2 separate regions of the Homo sapiens genome follow, and region 2 is linked to region 1. Evidence: fine-mapped expression QTL. A gene starts in region 1. The other region holds a variant in brackets. All regions are shown on one strand. Distances are between the middles of the regions.

Evidence for each region. PIP is the estimated chance that this variant, and not a neighbour inherited with it, causes the effect.
Region 2: its variant is fine-mapped to the expression of EFHC1 in blood mononuclear cells (TOPMed, PIP above 0.99).

The regions. Positions count from the first base shown.
Region 1 is chr6:52,418,707-52,421,618 of GRCh38, forward strand. It overlaps EFHC1 (EF-hand domain containing 1), which reads left to right and starts at 1,636. Exons shown (of 11, transcript NM_018100.4): 1 at 1,636-1,767. The coding sequence starts at 1,705. LOC124901331 (a long non-coding RNA gene) reads right to left here and starts at 2,275. Exons shown (of 2, transcript XR_007059611.1): 1 at 1,503-2,275. RefSeq lists an enhancer at 1,605-2,196.
Region 2 is chr6:52,393,779-52,396,690 of GRCh38, forward strand. All of the region lies in intron 1 of PAQR8 (progestin and adipoQ receptor family member 8), which reads left to right. Among named protein-coding and RNA genes, the nearest start is that of EFHC1, 25 kb to the right of the region's middle. The variant G/A (reference allele first, on the strand shown) is at 1,211.

The DNA.
Region 1 (2,912 bases):
GAGTTAGAAAGGAAACTCTCTGGGCAGGGTATGGTAAGCAGGCATCAATAACTGCCTCAGGTGCCACTTAATGCATTCATGTCCTGGGCCTCCTGAGCGTCACACAAATTAGTGAAACCCAACAGGGGGATTTGCTCTGACAAGCAGCAATAAAAGTAAAGCTGCTGTCTGTATTGGCAGTAAACTACCTGTGACACTGAGATATGCCTTCTGTGTCTGGCTTATTACTCTATCATGTTCCTAAACTGGCTTGTCACAAACGCCTGTTACAAAAATCAGATTCCTGGCCTCCATGTCAGACCTAATGAATCCAAATCTCTCGGCACGTGGGTTTTGATTACTTTTTATTTTTAAGCTCCTCAGCAATGATGGATAGCTTTCTCCCCCCCCCCCCAAAAAAAATGTTTCAGGAATAGGATTATGTTTCTTTTAAGAAAAAATAATTTAAGCAAGTTTTGTAAAAAGCATCAAAGGCTATACCTATGATGCTGACAATATTTCACCTCACTTATCTGCTTCTTTCCCAAGACTTAGTCTTTCTCTTTGAAGGAGCTGTGTTCCTCCTAGTGGTTCTGATCTTTTTCATTGCAGCTGCAGGTACAAACGAGGGATTGAGGTGACCACCCTTCAACCTGCAGCTCTTCAGTCAACAAAAATCAAGTACCTATCAGAGTGCACCCTGCCCTGCAGCACATATTCAAGGCTTTCCCTACAAAAACAAAGGTGTTTAACCGAAGGGATTGATGGTAGAATAAAGAGAGCTGGGCGCGGTGGCTCATGCCTGTAATCCCAGCACTTTGGGAGGCGAGGTGGGCGGATCGCTTGACCCCAGGAATTCGAGACCAGCTTGGGCAACATAGTGGGACACTATCTCTACGGAAGGAGGGAAGTAGGGAAGGAAGGAAGGAAGCAAGGAGGGAAGGAGGGACGGAGGGAAGGAGGGAAGGAAGGAAGGAAAAAGAAAAGAAAGGAAAGAAAGAAAGGAAAGAAAGAAAGAGAAAGATTGATTTTAAAAAAGAGTTAAAAGGGGAAAAATACAATGTGGCAGTGGGAGAATTAAGGATGAGATGATTGCATTAGTTCATTGACCATCCCTGAGCAACAGAAACACAATCATGGGTAATCCTCGGCCCCTGCCTACAAGAAGCATGGGTCTAGTTTAGTAGCACTGCCAACTGGACCGACCATTTACACTTCTGTGTGAAATGGGGCAGAGGGGGGAGAAAAGAGTGCCTGAGCTCACAGCGTTGGCGGGGCGCAGTGAGGTCCGCCAGGACTAGGTGGAAGGAGAGAAGGAACGTCCCTCTCTGCAACTCATCTAAGGGCCTGCTCGGACCCCGGATCTCACAGCGAGAACTACCGCCTCGCTACACCCGCCTTTCCCCGCGCCACCCAACAGCTCCCACGTCTCATCCTCCGGGAGCGGGGCGGGGCGAAGCGGAAGAGGAGGGGCCGACACAACCACGCCCACTAGCCGCGCTCCAAGGCCGCGGCCCACTTACCGCGAGAACGCGGAGTCCTGCGGATGGCGCACGCGCAAACCTCCTGTGATGCCTGCGCCTCCTGGCCCCGCCTTCCGCTCGTGGGAGTTCCGGATGTTTAGCGTTACCATGGATCCTGGAGGTGCCCGCGAACACTGCTTGTCGCCTGGGCAACCGGAGAGGACGAAGCAGGACCTAGGTGGCGGCGGTGGTACCGGCTGCAATGGTGTCCAATCCCGTGCATGGCTTGCCCTTTCTTCCGGGCACGTCCTTTAAGGACTCTACGGTGAGCAGTTATCTGCCAGACTCCCACCTGTCCCCACCTTCCAGCAGCCCAGGAGGTTTCCCCGCTCAGTGCACCTCCATTCCCCTCCACTCAAGTCTGTCTTCTCTCCAAACACGTCTTCTGTCCTGACCCTGTTCTTTATTCTGGGCCGAACTTCTGCCGTTCTTCCCTAGCCATCCTCATCCCCTCTCTCCGATCCTTTGCCCTCCGCCTCATCCCTCTCTAGTTTTTTCCCACTCCATCTTGGCAGTGTGTTGGCGCCTTCATTCTCATCCCGTTAGCCGCGTTCTTTCTTACGGCCCTGCTCCTCCAAGCCCCTGCCTCTTGTCCCTTTAGATCACTGTTTCCCCCACCCTACTCCCAACCTATCTCTGGGCCCTCTCCCTAGCTCGTTCTCTCACATCATAACCTGTCTCCGTCCATCGCCGCCCTTAAAACCCCCCGCCACTATGCACCTTCAACCTCATTCCCACAGGTCCGTCATTCCCGCCCCACCTCTTCCTCTTCTGAATCCTGTACCCGGTAGTATCTCCCACTCCCAGCTCCATTTCCTGTTTTGTATGTATATCGATTCCGCTCCTCTTCTTTCCGCCAGGTCTTTTTCCTTTCTTCTTTATGCTTGCATCCAACCCCATTCTTTTTTCTCCATCTTCTACATTTTCCACAATTTAGTCCCATCCTCTCCCCATTCCTTTCTTTCTCCGTTGCGGGTTTTCCCCAAAACTTGCTCACCTTCCTCCCAAAGCATCTTTCCCTGCTTTGTAAGAGATATTCCTTTCCAGTTCCCTCAAGAATTGATTAGTTGCTGTTTATTCTTCCCCGGCCCTGTTCTTTTTATTCTAACGTTTTTGTAAAAAGATTCCTGTTTAGATTTTGTTTTGCTCCTTCCCCAACCTTGTGTTTTTATTTGCATTTTCTAGACAAAATTTTTTAAAAAGTAGCAGCAGCTTGGATTCTTTTTTTTTTTTAAACTCTTGCCACAGTTTAGCTCTTAAAATTATTTGGTTTGTTTTAATTCTGACAGGGCTACTGAAATGTATGTGCTGAAAAATCAATAATGAGATTCAGTAGACTGATCATCATAGATGAGCTAACAGTAGTTTATGTTTATATAGTTTAATACTTTAAACTCTTGCCTTCCTCTC
Region 2 (2,912 bases), 25 kb before region 1:
CCATGTAGGCATACAGTAAGGAAAGTCCTATAATGAAGGACTTTAAGTGCAGTGGCAGTTAGGTGAAGGAGCACCTGAGGGGAAGCCTTCACAGGGACCATTTGAGATGGGACATGAAGCATGAGTAGGAGTTGGCCAGTGGACATCAGTGGTGTGGGCATTCCAGGCATGCATAGAAGCACAAAGTCCTGAGAGGATGGCAGAATAACTGGAACACAAAGTGTCAGAGTGGGAGATGCTTTGGGGACAGTTAAAGAGACGCACAGGTAGGGGACCAGGAAGGCCTCCTGTATCCTACAGAGGTTCCTGTGAGAGATAATAAGGACTCAAATTCAGACAGGGGCCAATGAGAGGGAACCCAGCAGATGGAGGAGTTGGCCAGGAGCAGTGAGTGCAGTGACACGGTTACACCTGTTTCTCAGGTGATAGGAGACGTGCCCAGGTGCTGCTCTGCTTATCGATATAGTTCCTCTCTGAAAGTTAAATGGTCTTTTATGGGTACTTCACGTATTTTTACTGTGTTTTCAGGGGATAACAACTATCACCAAAAACGTGTCATTTCATTGTTTTATTGAAAGTTACTGAAAAGGAAATGCATTTTAGGTAGTTTCCATCAGTCAGAACTACGAAAACAAAACCAAACCTTAAGAATACAGATGATCCCCAACTTAGGATGGTGTGAAAGTGATACACATTCAATAGAAACCATACTTTGCATTTGGGGTTTTGATTTTTTCCAAGGCTAGTGATAGGTGGTGAAATACTCTAGCAATTCTGGGCAGCAGCAGTAACCTGCAGCTCCCAGTCAGCCATGTGATCTCAAAACAACCAGTACCCTACGGTGTCCTCTGTTGCCAGATGACTTTCCCCACCTGTAGGCTAAGTGTGTGTTCTGAGCACATTTAAGGTAGTGTAGGCTAAGAGTGGTTACGTTCAGTAGATTAGGTGCATTAAATGCATTTTCAACTTAAGACGTTTTCAACTTAACAATGGGTTTACTGGGCTATAACCCATCATATGTCAAGGAACATCTGTATTTAGCTTAGTTCTGTGATTTACTTTTAAAAAGAACACCTAAATGCACAATTTTTGGCTAAAATGTCAGATTTTTAACCATGAACTTGGGATTTTTACCCCATTTTTCTCTTTCCATTAAAAAAAAAATTTGAAAGGCGCTTCTAAGATAAATTTTTAAGATTAGATCCCGGCC[G/A]GGCACAGTGACTGACGCCTGTAATCCCAACACTTTGGGAGGCTGAGGTGGGTAGATCACCTGAGGTCAGGAGTTTGAGACCAGCCTGACTAATATGGTAAAACTCTGTCTCTACTAAAAATTCAAAAAATTAGCTGGGCATAGTGGCATGCACCTGCAGTTTAGTCCCAGCTACTTGGGAGGCTGAGACAGGAGAATTGCTTGAACCCGGGAGGCGGAGGTTGCAGTGAGCCAAGATTGCGCCATTGCACTCCAGCCTGGGCGACACAGCGAGACTTCGTCTCAAAAAAAAAAAAAAAAAAAAAGATTAGATCCCTACATAATGCAAGGCATTATTCAACATTTTTTAACACTTTCTTATAAACATTAAGTGAATTCATGGTACATATACTCAGTAAATAGAACTTTTAATTCCAATTCCATTATAATCTGACTCTAATTAAAAATCCTTAAAGGAGATAGGGGAGTTCAAATATCCCACTGCTCTAGATGTGTCCAAATGAATGTCCTCCATGGGCACTTCAAACTCAACATTTTCAAACATGTCTTTCAGCCCAGACCTGACCCAGGGAGGCAGTATTATGATGATTCCCAGGAGTGTTACAAAACAAATAATATTCCTTTTTGATTTTAAAAAATTGCATTAAAATCAATTATAAGGTAGAAAATACGTGTGGATAGATTTATTTTTACTAAGTTATATCCTTCAGTGGGCTCTTTATTTGAAATATTACTAGGACTTTATGTACATGTTTTGCCTCTTGAAAGTACTATTCCATTACTGACCATTTTGTTATTATTCATTCTGTTTTCTTCCTAAAAAGTGGATAGACAGGAAATCACCTCCTCTCACCCACCCACCCTTTTTTATGAGGACAATGACACTGAGTAATTGATTGTCTTAGGCATAGCCACACACCTGAGTAGAGCAAATACTAATAGCCAGACTTCCTGACTCCCAAACCATTACTTCTTTTTTCCTTCACCTTTGCAGAAGAGAAAGAAATTGGTGCCATGAGCCTGGGCCTAAAGAACTGTTCATTCAGTAAATAATTATAAGGTGTCTTCTATATGCCAGATATTATTTTCAACATGGGGACTTCTGCACCTAACAGTCCCTGCCTTTAAAGGAGCTGGTGGCTAATGGGAAAGTAAGTGGAGTAAACAAACGAACCCAGCTCCATGAATGAAGAAAACTGGGAGAGGCAAGGCCAGAGTCTAATGAAGGCTGGAGAGAGCCCTAAGCCAGTCTGGGAGTTAAGAAAAGCTTCCTGGTGGAGCCGACTTCTAGTTAGAGTGTTGAAAATGACCCAGAGTTGCTGGGCTAGAGGGTACTGAGTTTGCATGCATGGGAGATAGAGTGTCAAGAACTCCCAGTATTAAGAGTATTAAGATCTGGGCCAACAAATTGGCCTTAGAGGTATGGGCTCTGGGAGAGGAGGCTGGAATAGGAAGGAAAACAGAGAAAGGATCTGTTTGAATAATTAGGGCTTAGAATTTGTATTGTAAACAAACAATGGTGAGCTGTTGAAGAATTTTGAGGAGGGAATGATAATCAGATTTCCATTTTTAAACTGTTGCCCTGAAGTGATTTGGAGAATGAAGTGAGGGTTGGGGATGTGAGTTAGGAGAGCCATTATTGATGATGAAAGGTCAGTTATGAGACTGCTATTGTCATCATTAACATAAGTTAATTTTGAAG